2 separate regions of the Homo sapiens genome follow, and region 1 is linked to region 2. The links come from fine-mapping of genetic effects on gene expression. Tissue or cell type: nasal epithelium. Region 2 holds a variant in brackets; the other region holds the start of a gene. All regions are shown on one strand. Distances are between the middles of the regions.

Region 1 (8,183 bases), 95 kb after region 2:
ACTGCCATCAGGATAATCTTTCTAAAGTGCAAGTACTAGTTCTAGTTTGTTCTTTCAACAGTTATTAAGGGCCTAATATGTGCCAGGCATTTTACTAAGTACTAGAGATAAGATTAAGACATGGTCCGTTGGCTGGGCATGGTGGCTCATGCCTGTAATCCTAGCACTTTGGGAGGCTGAGGCAGGAGGATCACTTGAAGACGAGTTCGAGACCAGCCACGTCAACATAGCAAGACCCTGTCTCTGCAAAATAATAATAATAGCAAGGCCTGGTGGCACACACCTGTAGTCTCAGCTACTTGGGAGACTGAAGCAGGAGGATCACTTGAGCCCAGGAGTTCAAGGCTGCAGGGAGCTACGATCACACCATTGCACTCTAGCCTGCCAAAAAAAAAAAGCCATTGTCCTTGAATTCAAATTGCTTAGCCTAGAGGGAAAATCAGGCATTTGGGATCAGTACTTCTAATCTTCTCTCTGAAATCTTCTTTCTAAAACCAACCTCAACACAATGGAACCCCTGCCCCCCGTCTGAGTTTCTTCCTCTAGCCCACTATATGCCTTTCCTAAGCTGCTTCTCAGCAGTCTAGTCTAGGCCTTAGTCCCTTCTCTGAACATGACTTATTGGTTGTCTTTTGATTTTTTTAATATTTTTTCAATTTTTTTCACAAAACATACAATAAGAGGTTCTTATTGTGCAACCTAATTGCACTTAAGTACATGCATTCATGTACCCAATGTACATATTAGTGAGTTAAATTTTTAACAAAGTCATACTTACATTATATTTATCTTTACTTCAGGAGCTAAATTCTCATTTTTTTCCCTATCATGTTGCATTTTATTCTATTCCATTTTTTTAAATGCTGGTTGCAGCCCACTAAATTGATTTTACTATTCATTAATGAGTTGAGATCCCCACTTTGAAAAAAAAAATCACTGTTCTATGTAGTCTCATTCATACTAATTTAGTTAATAATGATTTTCTAAATCTACATTTCTAGGCCATATCTTTCTCTTCAGCTTCTGACACACACATCCAAGTGCCTAGTGGACATTTCCACACAGTGTAACCACAGGCACCTTGATTTCAATATGTCCAAAACTGAACTATCGTCCCCACCCTCATAGCATCCTGGTAATTGTGTGGATGCTAAAACCAATGTTCCCCATAGCACTACTGTCTTTCCAGCTGTCTAAGCCAGAGACTTTGCATTTGTTTATTCAATAAGTATTCATTGAATGCCTACTATGTTCTAGGCCCTGTCATTTTGGATTCCTCTTAATCAAATCAATCATAAAGGCCTGTTAATTTTAACTCCTAAATACTTCCTCCCACATCTCCGCATCCCCTCTGCCAATACCCTAATTCAAACAACTATCTTCTCTTGCCTGGGCTCCTTCCTACTCTTGTCTTGTCCCTATGCCCTGCTGCCACCACCCCAATTTCAGCCCCCAATCCATTCCTTTTAAGGCAGGGAGGCAGGGAGAATGTTCTCTCCAGTACACAAATCAGATCATGTCACTCTTCTGCTTAAACACTTCAGTTTATCTCCCCATTCCAGCCCACCCCGCCTTTGCTATGAGATAAGATCCGAAATCTTTAATATAGTCCACAGATCGTATATGTTCTGGCCCTTTGCCTATCTCTCCTGCTTCATCTTTGACACTCCTCTTCCACATACTATACTCCATACTGGAGTATAGTTCAGCAAGACTGTTGGGGAATCATCAAGCCAATGTTGCCCATTAGAGGAGTGCTGTGTGAGGAGTGCTGTGTGAGAAGTGCAGTGTTTCCCAGGAATGGGTCTGCCTTAGTATCTCCACCACATTCAGTCAGTGGCTGGGAAGATGGCCTCCATGCAAATGTGGCAGATTTCTTTTTTCTTTCTTTTTTTTTTTTTGAGACAGAGTTTTTGCTCTTGTTGCCCAGGCTGGAATGCAGTGGTGCAATCTTGGCTCACCGCAACCTCTGCCTCCCGGGTTCAAGTGTTTCTCCTGCCTCAGCCTTCCGAGTAGCTGGGATTACAGGCATGCACCACCATGCCCGGCTAATTTTGGATTTTTAGTAGAGATGGGGTTTCTCCATGTTGGTCAGGCTGGTCTCGAACTCCTGACCTCAGGTGATCCACCCGCCTCGGCCTCCCAAAGTGCTGGGATTACAGGCGTGAACCACGGAGCCCAGTCGTGGCAGTAGATTTCTAAGGCAGCAGCTGATGCCCTTGGTCAGTTACACTCCTTGTAGTTTAAAGTCTGCAAGGTGCTTTCTCATGACCATTATAGTTTATCACCCTCAGAAAACAATTCTTATGTCATAGTCCCCATTTCTGGTACAGTTCTTTGCATATTTTTAATAAATGCTATAGAGGGTACGGAAAGAAATTAATAGTAGGTAGGAGCAATGGGTGGTATGGTTTGGAGTGAGGCTAGTGCTCAAGTTTGAATGCGTCCCCCAAAGTTCATTTGCTGGAAACTTAGTACCCAATGGAATAGTGTTCAGAGGTGGGGCCTAACAAGAGGTGATTAGGCCATAAGGGCTCTGCCCCCATAAATGAATTAATGTCATTATCTTGGAAATGAGTTAGTTATTGAGAGAGTGGGTTTGTTGTAAAAGTGAGTTCAGCTCCCTATTGCTGTCTTGCTCTTTTGTACCCCTTGCCCTTCTGCCTTCTGCCATGGGATGACACAGAAAAAATGCCCTCACTAGATGTGGGATTCTCAACCTTGGAATTCCTACCCTCCAGAATTTAAGAATACATTTCCTTTATTTACAAGTTAGTTGTTCTGTGGTATTCTGGTATAGCAACACAAAGGGGAGTAAGACAGGTAATGCTGGGGTTGAGCCTAGTAAGGTAGGTGGGGTCAGTTATAATGGACCCTCTAACCGAAAAGGAAACATAAGCCATTTTTAAGACAAAGAATGATATGATCAAAATATTTTTACAAGGACAATTCTAACATCAGTGGAAACGATAATCTGGAGATTAGAGACAGAAAGGCTAATTTGGACTATATGGGGGGAAAGAGCTGTTGAGAAGCTACCCTTTAAACTGAAACACAGGAACTCTATTGAATATCAGATTATAGTGTTTAAAAAAGGACATAGGTTAAATAGTTCTGTTCTTACCTGAGGAACAGTTGATAGGAGCAAAATGGTTTAGTGGGACTAGAATACAAGCAGGCAACTCTTTTCCTGTTGAAACATCTAACCTATCCTGTGCCACTCATTGAAATATTGCCCCACCCCACCTCCAACCTGCATCTAGACAATGAACTGAGAAAATAACAATAATAATAATAAAGAAAACAAGGAAAACTGCTTGTACATTTCTAGCTTGGAACTAGCATTATCTTTCCCTCTCCTGTGGACTAATTCAGAGAATTCCTTTTTAACCAGAGTTGAAGACCCAGACCAACCAACTGTTAAGGACCAGGACGCTCCTACCCCATCTGGAGTTCGTCAAAGGGACTATGGGAATCAACCTCAAGTAAGCGAGAATGAGTATGAAGAGAGCGACAGACCCTCTTGGAATACAGGAGTTTGAAAAGACTTAAAAGAACTTTGTGAAGGCAGCTATAACTTCCATGAGGGCAGTGACCATTGTCTGTACATCCACTGTACTCCAATCCTAGCACAATGCGTGGCACATAACGTGCCCACCACAGATGTTTAGTGAACAAAATAGCGACTGGCTGAAGGAAATGATGTGGAAGGGAAAAGTTAAAACCAAGAAAACGGTCGGTGGGGGAGCTACTGGCATGTTTCATGGGAAGGGGTAGAAAAAGAAAAATGTCAGGTTTAGCACAGCATTTCCAACAAATAGACAAAATTCTACCTAAGGGACAAAGAAGGACTGTTCTCAGGGTATCTAGGGACTTGGAGACCGTTTTCCTGAAGCGCCACCTGAAGCGCACCCTGAGGCAGCCAGGCCCCGCCTTGCCCGCAGTGAGCCTCCCGCCCAGCCGCGCCGGCCTGAGGGGGGCGCCTCCGAACGCGCGGGCGCACGCTGAGAGCCGGGAGGACCAGGTGAGGGGGCCTCCGTCTTCCGAAGACAGGTACGGTTCTCCACGCCTCGGGGAGGGAGGGCAGCCCGAGAGCAGCCGGCACCACTTCGCAGGCTGGGCTGGGCGTGGGCCGAGCTCGGGCCAGTCCTCAGGCAGGTGTTGGTTGCGCTGGCCGTGGCGGGTGCCGGCGCAAGACTGACGCCGAGAGAGGCTCCGAAATCGCTGTCGGAGTCATCCCTCCGCATACTGTTCTGGGCGGCCAGGCCTGCGCGGAGTCTGGGCCCGGAGCTTCCTCCGCGGGGCCCCCAGGCCCGAGGGCCGGGCTGCTGATCCGCCAGGCACGGTAGGCGCCATGCCGAGGGACCACGGAGGCTTCAGGGAGCCACGAGAATTTTTTTTCTTCTGGTTTTGCTTTGTTTTTGAGACGGAGTTTCACCCTTGTTGCCCAAGCTGGAGTGCAATGGCGTGATCTCGGCTCACTGCAACCTCCGCCTCCCGGGTTCAAGTGATTCTCCGCCTCAGCTTCTCGAGTAAGCTGGAATTACAGGCTCCCGCCACCACGCCTGGCTAATTTTTTTATATTTTTAGTAGAGACATGGTTTCCCTATGTTGGCCAGGCTGCTCTCGAACTCCTGACCTCGTGATCCGCCCGCCTCGGCCTCCTAAAGTGCTGCGATTACAGGCGTGAGCCACCGTGCCCGGCCACGAGAATGTTTTCATTTCGTTTAAAGTGAACCCATGAAGTCAAAGAAAGTGTTTTGATTTTTTTCTCACATCAGGAGGGGGAAATGAGATTTTTAGGGCCTACAAAATCCATTAACTTCTTTTAATCTTTTTTTAATGGAGGAAGGGGTCCACGAAGACGAAAGTGCCTTAGGGCCCACGAAATCTTTAATAGGGCCCTGCCAGAGGGAGAACCATTGAATCGTTTATCACGCGACAAAGTGAATGAGGGCTTGTAAAGGGGCCCTAACCTAGAATGCTCAGCACGGAACAGAACATCCGCAGAGGCAGACACAGCGAGAAGCCGATCTGTGAGAGGTGGATCTCCCGGGGTGCGGGCAGGGGAGGGCCTAGTGTGAGGATGGAGAGTTGGGCAGAAGGCACAAGCAGAACTTTAGGGCCAGGGTAAAGATATTGGATTCTGTTTCCAGTGGTGTAATTGGAAGTCCTTGGAGGGTTTTTAGTTTGGGCATAACTTGGTGGTTTGGAGTGGTTCAAGGCCCAGTTCCAGTTTTAACCAGTTTGCAGGGAGAATTCATTAAGCGAGTGTTCTTGGCAAAAGTGGAGAGTATAGGGTCAGAATAAGGTCAGAGCCTGTTTAGTACTATGCCCAGACACATCAGATGCATGAATTGATGATGTTTGAGGATGTAAGGAAGAGAGCTGCCTCTTACCTCATTTAAAATACAGTCTTCCAATTGCACATTAGTGTGGGATTGAAAAATGACTGCAAGCTGAAACCATTCAAAGAGATCTTAAACACCAATGGGAAAAATTACAGTTGTTCTATAACCTTGAAAAATTGTCAAAACACTAAAACTTTCTTACTAACTGTATAGGGAAATGTAAAACAGTAAAACTATTTCATACACTAACTTAAAACATTAGAAACATTGAGAGCTAAAGTGTTTTATTTGTTGAAAAAAAACTCTCATAGTAAAACTTATGAGAGAGCAAACATTTTTTGTGTGTCTTGGCAAACTGACATACTTCTTTCTAAGTTTGGGTTAGTTTCCTACATTTTATCCTTTGTACCTTCAATTTTGTAAAATATCTCTGAAAGTTTCTTTAATAATGAAGCTTTTTGCCAGTGGCCCTTTCTGTAGGATGTCTTCATCCTTTTCATCACAATGACTTTCCTCAAGTATGTTGATAAGTTTGCCTTCACTAAATTCCTCTGGCTGCTTCTCTAGAGTCTATCAGGTGGAGGCAGTGTCAACACTCTCATAGTCAGCTGTTTCTCCTTTAACTCCACTTATGTTAGATTCAGATTTCACTCCTGGCATTATCATTTTTTATTTCTTTGCTGCTCCTTTTATCGGCTAGTTTCCTCTTTCAGTTTTTGTTTTTATAAAACATCACATGGGCTTATCACTAGGAGACAAGGAGGCGACACAACTACACACTTCTGTCTGTGCTTTAACTGACTAATGGATCTGCAGTGACGGGTCACCAACAGACTTTGAAAGAAGTGATATAATTAATTACTGATCATGATGCACTGATCACTATATTATATCAGTACGCTATATCAGTATACTATACTATTGATACTGATAACTAGTAATTCGTGAACTAAAGAGCTAGATACTACTTTATGTAATTACAGTTAATATTCCATGGTAACTGAAATTTGAACTGTGTTGTTGGAAGACTAGTGTTAATTAACTAAACTGTAGTAACTGAAATCTATATACTTGAACCATGCAAAATGAGGACTGCCTCTACTTTATTTTTTTATTTTTATTTTTTTCAAGGGTGAGCTGGTGATGTTAAACAGCAACTTTTATTAAAGCAGCAGTGTACAGCAGCAGCAGAGGTACTGCAACTGTGGAGCAGGGCTACCCCATAGGCAGTGTGCCCAGAATAGCAGCTCAGAGGTAGTTCAGCAGTCATAGTTATACCCAGTTTTAATTACATGCAAATTAAGGGGGAGTTGATGCAGAAATTTCTAGGAAAAGCATGGTAACTTCCAGGTCATAGAGTCGTTGCTATAGAAAGGGATGGTAACTTCTGAGTGTTGCCATGGCAATGGTAAACTGACAGGGCACACTGGTGGGCATGTCTTATGGAAAGCTGCTTCCACCCTCGCCCTGTTTAAGCTAGTCCTCAATTTGGTCTGGTGTCCAAGCCCTTCCTGCAGAGTTGAGTCCCGCCTCCTACCTCACTATCAAAACTAAACTCATACGTGCCTTATGGCCCAGCAATACTGTGTCCAGAATTGGTGGGTTCTTGGTCTTGCTGACTTCAAGAATGAAGCCGCGGACCCTGGCGGTGTTACAGTTCTTAAAGATGGTGTGTCCGGAGTTTGTTCCTTCTGATGTTCGGATGTGTCTGGAGTTTCTTCCTTCTGGTGGATTCATGGTCTCGCTGGCTTCAGGAGTGAAGCTGCAGACCTTTGCAGTGAGTGTTACAGCTCTTAAGGCGGCGTGTGTGGAGTTTTTCATTCCTCCCGGTGGGTTTGTGGTCTCCCTGGCCTCAGGAGCGAAGCTGCAGACCTTCACGGTGAGTATTACAGCTCATAAAGGCAGTGCGGACCCAAAAAGTGAGCAGCGGCAAGATTTATTGCAAAGAGCGAAAGAACAAAGCTTCCACAGTGTGGAAGGGGACCTGAGCAGGTTGTCCTGCCTCTACTTTAAAATGGCGTTTTCAGATGTGAGAGATGGAGATGGATAATTAAATTTAATTATACATTAAATAAGGCCTCTGACTACCTGTTTGTGTGAATTTCTCTGTGTCAGCTTCAAGTTCAGCATTCCATGTAGAAATTGGCCCCATGTACTTAAAGTACAGTTTAAAAATATGTTATGTGCTTTCTTGGTAAATACATTAGTAATTGATTTGGGTTTCTGGTTCAAGATGACTTTCAACAGATTAGCATATTAATTCATTTATTTTTCTAGCTGTATCCAGCACGTAATTGGAACTCAATTTTTAAAAATGTTGAATGAACAAATGCTGACTTCCACTATCCAAAAAGGGAAGTTTGAAGAGAATAACTTCACTGATTCATTTGGGGAAATACATCTATCTATGTATTTTTTTTTTTTTTTTTGAGACGGGGTCTCGCGCTGTCACCCAGGCTGGAGTGCAATGGCGCGATCTTGGCTCACTGCAACCTCCGCCTCCTGGGTTCCAGCGATTCTCCTGCCTCAGTCTCCTGAGTAGCTGGGATTACAAGCGCGTGCTACCACGCCCGGCTAATTTTTGTATTTTTAGTAGAGATGGGGTTTTACCATGTTGGTCAGGCTGGTCTCAAACTCCTGACCTTGAGATCCACCCGCCTCAGCCTCTCAAAGTGCTCGGATTACAGGCGTGAGCCACTGCGCCCGGCCTATCTATGTATTCTTAGATCATTTTTAAAGATTCTAAATTCCAAAGTGTTTCTGAAAATTATCATAATTATCTTTGTATTGTCACAGGGGAAATCAAATAAGCTTTAATTTTCCCTACATTCT
Region 2 (8,183 bases):
AGGGAGAATTTTTTAACTCCCTGCAACCACCACCACATTCACCTGCAGAAATTCTAAATCACCTTTCAGGTAAAAATGGCTGCAGCAGCGACAGCCAACAAGGTTCAGAATCTATGTATTGAGCACCTTCTGTGTTCTGGGAATATTCAGACAGACCCAGGTAACGAACAACATTCCACTGTGTCATCCCTCTGGACTTGTCTGAGCACGACAGTTTATTCAATCACAAGACAGTCCAGTCACAAGATAGGAAGGTCTGAAGCAAGCCCAATTTCACCCTTAGGGTGTGATGGTCCTGAGGAAAGTGACCTGCTGGCCCAACCTAATCCCAGACACTCAGCCAGGCAGGACAGGCTGATGTCACAGTCACAGGCAATCCCCAGCTCTGGTGGAAGCAAACAGTGAACAGTGGGGGACCAGGCTGGTTAGACTCACAGGTGGGTGGAGTGCAGCATCAGGCAATATTATCATAGTGGCACTTGGAAGTCTGGTCAGGCAGGTTATCTATAGCCAGGAATCTGCAGTTTTGCTCCAGGATTTAGGAGAATTCTCTGGCCTGTGGCTGGGGAACTAGTAGATACAGGCAGTGAGGTGGGGGTATTAGGAGATTACCAGGAAAGGAACCCAGGACAGAGGCCAAAGGGACAGCAAATGGGGTTCAGGCCTTGGATCTTGGAGTTGGCCCTAGGCCACCTTGTCATGGATCAGAAGAGGTTGTAGGGGGGTGGGGGAAATGAATGACACAAAGTCATGGCAGAATATGGACTGGACAGAACTGTGAGCCTGCAGAGGAGGAGAGCATAGGCCTCGATGAGGAATCAGGAGCTGGGTGTAAGGGTGGGTTCCTGAGCAGCAAGAAGTCTGTTGTCTGCCTCCTTCAGGTGCACAACCACGGCCTCCACTAGCCCAGGTGGAGCCTTTGCATGAACAAAAAATGGTGCCTCCTTTGGGCAGACCAGTTGAGTACACACCCCAGAGGCACACAGGCACACCTTTGTTCAAACAGAAAGGCACCACTTCCTCCTGCAGGTGCAGCCCACACCAGGGCACATAACTTGAGAACAGAGCCTGCACTAGATCCCAGCGCCCACTTTCTTACTTGGTCAGCACCTGTGTGCCGTCCATAAAATGCACACCTGTCCGTGGATGCCCTGGGAACGGCTCAGGGAGAGGGCGTGTGAATCCACCTGTTCTCCCCGGCAGTGGGCAAGCCTAGACCTCCCAGCACGGAGCAGGGACCATGGGTGGGCTTAACTCTGTGGTGGAGGAAGTGGTATTGGAATAAACTTGTCTTTGTGCTGTTGAAAACCAGCCCCTACACCTCAGCGGCCACCCTGCAGTGTAGCCTGTAATTGATTCCTTATTCATACCACGTTGGAATTCCAAGAATCGGTGCTAATAACACCCTTTCCCCTTCTTGCAGCCCGAGCTGTAGCTGGAGAGAGAATGACAAGCTGGGTAGCCTCGGCCACAGGCCCCCAGCTAGAATCCTGACCTGCAGGTTATAATAATTATCAGTAACAGCTAACATTTATGGTGCACATTGCAACTTACCAAGTGCTTTCATGTGCATTCTCTCCCTTGCTCCCTGTCAGGCAGGGATTCCTGGCAGTCCCTTCACAAATGAGAACACAGACTAGCTCTTATGTGTCCAGATGGTTGGTATAGCAGCATGTATTGGAGTTCCCTGGAGCCTGACTACCAGTTTCCCATCCCAGTATGACCATTTCTTGGCTGTGTGACATAGAGCAAGCTGCTTTACCTTTCTGTACTTCAGTCTCTCTATGCATGAAATGGGGATATTAGTAGCTCCCTCGTGCATGAGGTGATGTGGCAGTTAAAACACTTAGAACAGTCAGTGCCTAGCATGAAACAAGTGATCCCAGCATAGAAGCTCTGCTTTCATAGCCTCATCTGGAAAACAAGATCCACCTAAGTGTGCAAAAACCTCACATCCTTTGGCAATCCATTTGTGGCACAAATAAAACTGGATCAGATTGCAGCATCACATTTGAGAAATGTAATTCCTGATAAGTTTCTTGAGCACGACTTAGCCCCCACGAGGCTGGGTAGTCAGAGAAGTTGCCACAAATGCTGTTGACTGTGTTGAGGAGAGCAGGTGGAATGGGCTCTGGCTGGACTGGGCAGTATGTACCCTCTGCACAGAGGTAACTGGCCAAAGGTGCCCATTTTTCAGCAGAAGCCCCAAACCCTGATTTTTAATGTGAAATATCCTGATTTCCAACTTTAGCAACTCAATTTCTTCTAAACACTGTGTGGGCCAGACCAGACGCAGGTGCATGCAGCCAGTTTGTGCCACCTCTCCCAGTGGCCCTCTCTGACTGCCACCCCTGGAGCTTTTAGTGCCTGCGGCCTCACACACTTCTCTCCAGGTTTGTCCTTATCTGTCCCATGATGGAGACCACCCCACTTGGTCCTCTCCTCGAGGTCCTTGGGTGGTAAAATGTCAGCCATGAACATGATGGGTGTTCTACCTGGAGTACTTCAGAGGGAAAATGCCACGGACAATCAAGTACTCAGTTACCATGGAGGATGAAAAAGAATGTGCTACATAAAATAAGATAAAATGAAACATGCTTTGGCATGTGAACATACAATGGGAAGTGTTTTGTCAGCTCCACACAAAGTCAAGATGCCATGTGCTCACTATAATTTTTTTTAATACTTATTTCAGAGGAACAATTTGACACCACATGAAAACCCCTTATTAAGGGGAACTTTAATGTGATCTCTGCCAAACTCTCGTGTTACAGCTAGAGAAGCTGAGAGAGTCCTGCATGAGATCTCAGAGCTGGAACCCAACACGGCGCTGCCATGTGCTCACTCAGCCCATTCTTCATTTTCATGTGCAATGCCTGCTTTCCAGGGTCTGAGATTTCCCTCCTTGAGGCAGATCCATGTATGTCATCCCAAGCATGTTCTTATGAGGCACTTACTGCGAGTGCAAGATAATAACACAGTAGCTTTCATTTGTAGGGTGCCATATATGGTCATCCAAGGACCCTCGTGTGTTTTTCTTTCCTGACAGGGGCATGAGACATGAACGCAAAAACCCACGCCCAGGGTCAGGAGAGCTGGGCTGTCGTCTGCACCACTAACAAGCTGTGTGACTTTGTGGGAGCTATTTGGCCTCTTCAGCCTACTCTCTTCTTTTCTCATTTTGGATAATACCAGCCATGCCTTAGTATTGGTATAATTATTATGAGCTTTCCCCAGCTACTGGTTGAAGACATGAGGCTCTGACTCCAGTCTAAGGATGCTTCTTGACTGACACCTTGAAAAATGACACAAGGACCCTGAATCCACCAAAGAGGAGAGTTGCACACAGAGAGACATACACAGGCCTGCACGCACATCCATGTCCTGCCAGGTGGGGTAGGCAGAAGGCTGCTGAGAAGGTGGCCCTCAGGAACCCACCCCTGGCAGCTACCACAGTTCATTGCCCCGTGTGCCAGACTTAAGGTCACCCAGGCCTTCCTGGAGCTGAGGGTCAGCAAACGCCTTGGCTGGGGCTGGCAGCCCCTCTACTCAGCTGGCTACGGGCATGGGATGCCTTCTCCTTGACTTCTGAATCTATTTGGCAATCCTGGTACAGGTTGAGACCAGACTTTTAGTAGTGAGTTAGAGAGACAATGATCTCAGCAAGACCGAGGCAACAGGATTAGAGCTGAAGCCGGTCAAGAACCGCACCTGTGCTCACATGTGTGCCAATAAAGTTAAACAAGCTAGTAGTGTTTATACTTGAGGGGATCAACTTTGGAATTAGAAAGGATTTTCCAGAAGGGGACAGCCAGGAACTGAGGAAGAAGAACTTTTGAGAGAATATATGGCAGGGACAGAGTAGCCTGCGCCCTAGGCTAACTGTACCATTGGATCCTAATTAACTTGGGAACATATCTTAGTCTTATGGACTATTGTTCCCTCCATTTA[C/T]AAGGAGGTATAATACTAGCTGACATTTAGTAAATGCTTGCAACATCCCAGGTGCTATATTAAGCACTTTGCATGTGTGTCTAATTTAATCCTCACAATGAATTAGGGTTCTATTATAATTCCCATTGCCCAGATGCAGAAACTGAGGTTTACAGAAGTTTAGTTATTTGCTACCATAAAGGAGTGATACATTTTGCAGGGGAAATCTTCACAGAAGTGGTGACGTTGAAGCTGTCTTAAAAACCAAGTAGCTATTTGTCAAGTAGGCAGCACCAAGAAGAGGAAAGTGGACAGGGGGGCACTTTAAGAAGAGGGATCAGCTTGTAGCAAAGCTCAAAAACAGGAAATGACCTGGAAAAGCCCACTGGGATTAGACTGTGAAAGGCTATATAGGGAGTTGGACAATCATGCATCATTGGAATCTTTTTGGTAGGAGAGTCACAGGATCAGATTGGTTGGGTGGACTAATGATTTTATAGTGTCTTTTGGAATAATGTTTTATCTTCTTCATTTATTATGGCTACAACTTACTCTTTTTTTTTTTTTTTTGAGATGGAGTCTCACTGTGTCATCCAGGCTGGAGTGCAGTAGTGTGACCTCAGGTCACTGCAACCTCTGCTTCCCAGGTTCAAGCGATTCTCCTGCCTCAGCCTCCTGAGAAGCTAGGACTACAGGCATGCGCCACCACACCCAGATAATTTTTGTATTTTTAGTAGAGACGGGGTTTTGCCATGTTGGCCAAACCTGACCTCAAGTGATCCTCCCGCCTAAGCCTCCCAAAGTGCTGGGATTAAAGCTGTGAGCCACCGCGCCCGGCCAATTTGATCTTAATTCTCCACCAGTTGCATCTTACTCCCTATTTTATTACCCTAGTGTAGTGTATATTTGTGCCACCTATTTAAATCCTCTTGGGAAGGAGACAAGAAATAAACACCTACTTACTTATAAATACATGAGGACGTACACCATATAGGTGGCATGCAGATCAGGGAAGAGAAGATGTCAAGAGAGACCAGGAAGAGGGCATTGGAGAAACAGACAGAGTAGTAAAGAGATGGGTCACAGAAGCCAAGAGGAGAGAGCATTAGAAAGAGGGAGCAGCTGGCTGGCAGCATGTCACATGTTGCCAAGAGGTTAAATTGGATGAAGACTAAAAAAAGGCCTTGGGATTGAGCGATGAGAAGGTCACCAGGGACCACAAGGACACTTCATTGCCCTATTGCATCAGACACAAATGAGAGATGAAGAAGTGGAAGCAGCAAGGACAGACATACAAGTTCAAGAAATTTGTAAGCAGGAAGAAAAAAGAACCGTGGATTAAGTGAGGGGAGGAGGCTTTTATTTTCTTGTTTTGTCTTGTGGTTTTTAGGGAGTGGATGCAAACACAGATGGGAAGGTAAGCTTCAACAGGACACTGCCAGGAAGAAGCATGAAGAAAGAGATAAACCCAGAGGCGGAATGAACCCTTTGGCAGTGGAGATATCTGACCATGGAGATGGTGAGAAAGCTCAAATCTCAGTTCTGGCTTTCCTTTGCATTTATAGCTGAAGGACTGACATGTGCATGGTGATTGGAGGAACCCAAGAAGTGAGTTTCTATCCTTTCCCCTACAGAAATACTGTGGGAGGCATTGCTCCAGAGGTAGACTCCTGGCACTCCTATTCCTGCCCCGCACCCTCACACACACTCAGTGCACGTCCCCAGGGACAGTCCCTTCTCTGGGCCTTATTTTTCCTGCCTGAGGCTCCTGGTGGGAGTGATGCTACCTTGGGGGAGTCTCAGGAGAGGAAGTGGAGCACACAGGCAGGAGGGAAAAAAGGAGGGAGGCAGGAAGAGCATAAACCAGGGCTCGGCTATGCCAGCTCAAGGCTCAGGAATTCCATATTCTAATTCCAGCTTCTCTTAAAGGGCTGGGTTCTCTCTGATTGATGGATAATTCCTGTTCTGCCTATTCTGCAATCATGCTTCCATTTCCATTCCAAAGATGAACCCAAAGAAACTTGTATCCAAAAAAAGGCTTAAAAAGTAGTGGTGACTCGGAAGGGCGAGGCCCGTGGCTGCTGGCAGCATATATGTCATGCCACCTATTCCTGCGTGCTTACATAATCGCAGTGCAACCGTGACTCACAGCCCGACAGCCAAGCTGAAACGTGATTAAGTCCTACAACCCTTCTGCCTGGAGCAGGGCAGGGCATGCTGTTTAACCCCTCTGCTGCCACAGCCTGGTGAGAAGGTAGTGCCCTTCGGTAGAAGAGCTCCTCCAGATGGATGAGTCCAACGCATTGGGAAAGGACCCCTGACCTGCATAAATACTTCTCTGAGACAGCAGCAAAAGGTCTTTCATTCCACAGATACAAATATTCCTGGGAGAGGTGACACATGGAATCCCTGCGTTTTAAAGCTGAGAAAACTTTAGACTTACCCAAGTTGAGTCATCCCCTTTAACAGACGAGGCTACCGAGGCCCAGTATCTAGTGAGAGATTAGTGACCACTCAAGGTCACAATGTGAGATAGCAGCAGAGTGGGGACTTGAACCTGGGTCTCCTGGCAGCAAGTCCAAAATGTGGTAGCCCTGACAACCCATTGAGAAGATTGCCCCTCTATATTCCAGGCTGCCAGCCAAGTGGTTCCGCACTTCACAGTAGCCTGCGTGCACCTGCTGTCTTCATACAGCCCTAGCAAGAATGACCCCAAAAGGGTTGTTCCTTAATCTCCAAGCTCCACTTAAAAGTCTCACAACTGGAGTTCTGGGGAGAACAGTATTTGGATTCAGGTCGAATCTCCAGCTCTGGAGTCTGTCCACATGGATGTGGTTGTGTCTGACACTTCCTAGCTCAGTGACTTTGAGCATCTATTTGAGTCTCAGTCACCTCATCTGTGAAATGGGGATAAAAACAGTAGTGCTGTTGTGAAATCATTGAAATAATTTGTCAGAGGTGCCTGTCACAGTGCCTGGCATGCAGTAAGTGCTCACAAGTGGTAGCTGCTACTCCAGTGTTAGAAGCACGGCTGCCTTCACGAACGACAGGGAGTTCCCGCTGGAAGCACTCAGAGAATGCTGCCTTCAGGCTGACCCCCAACACTCACAGGCTTCATGATAATCTCAGTGCAGAGCTTCTCTATAAAGACCTCAAAGCTCCACCAGCCAGCTAGACACTGTGTGACCTGAATCCTGTCCAGGCCCCTGCCTTGCTGTTGCTGACATCCAGATGAAAAGATCTGGATTGCCACATCCTACCTGGTGTTATCTCTGGCAGTGGCAGCAAAGGATTGTCTGATGGGGAATGGCTCCACAAAAGGTTAAAATGCCATCCCCTTCCCCAAATGTCTGTCCTGGTTTCACTTAATAACCAAATGATTCTGTCATCCAAGGGTTCATCTAGATAAATGATTGCAAACAAATCTTTTATTTTTATAATTGTCCTATTGAAACATGTTTAAAGCCTGTATTCTAGGGGAAGGGAAGCTATAAATATTAACAGTAGTGAGAGAAGCACTGGACTGGGGACAGCAGGAAGAGGGGAAGGGAGGGTGAGGGGATGGCTTGAAAATAGAGAAGAAAGTAAAAGCCTGCACACTGAATGGTTAGACCCCCTCACCCTTCCCCTGCTTATTTCCAAGAATGCTGGCAATCAGGTTCATATCCTCCAGCAAAGAGACTAGAGAATCTTAATCTGGAAAATTGAATCATACTGGAAGAAAGCCATACAGATCCTACAGATACTGACATTTGGAAGTGTCTCAGTGCAAAAATCCTGTCATTGCACAAATGTACTGTAGCAGTTGGCCTCAACCCTATCAGACTCAACACCTTCTTTTTTGTTGTTGTTTTTTAACAGCTTTATTGAGGTATAATTGATATTCAGTAAAGTGCTCATGATTAAGATGTGCAATTTGGAAATTTTTGACATATGCATGCACTCATGAAATGATCACCAAAATCAAGATTTAAAAACACAGCCATTCCCCAGAAGTTTCCTTGTGCCATTCATTGCCATTCTCTGTCCCAGTTTCCATTCCCAGGCAATCACTGATCTTTTGGTCACTATAGGGTTAGCTTACATTTTCGAGAATTTTATAAAAATTGAATTATATGACATTTGAGATGGAGTCTCCCACTGTCACCCAGGCTGCAGTGCAGTGGCATAATCTCTGCTCCACTGCAGCCCTCACCTCCCACGTTCAAGCAATTCTGCTGGCTCAGCCTTCCAAGTAACTGGAATTACAGGCA

What was found. PIP is the estimated chance that this variant, and not a neighbour inherited with it, causes the effect.
Region 1: M1AP starts here. The variant in region 2 is fine-mapped to the expression of M1AP in nasal epithelium (TOPMed, PIP 0.96).

The regions. Positions count from the first base shown.
Region 1 is chr2:74,644,135-74,652,317 of GRCh38, reverse strand. It overlaps M1AP (meiosis 1 associated protein), which reads left to right and starts at 3,988. Exons shown (of 11, transcript NM_001321739.2): 1 at 3,988-4,053.
Region 2 is chr2:74,738,791-74,746,973 of GRCh38, reverse strand. All of the region lies in intron 2 of LOC102724497 (a long non-coding RNA gene), which reads right to left. Among named protein-coding and RNA genes, the nearest start is that of SEMA4F, 89 kb to the right of the region's middle. RefSeq lists an enhancer at 5,582-6,781. The variant C/T (reference allele first, on the strand shown) is at 3,952.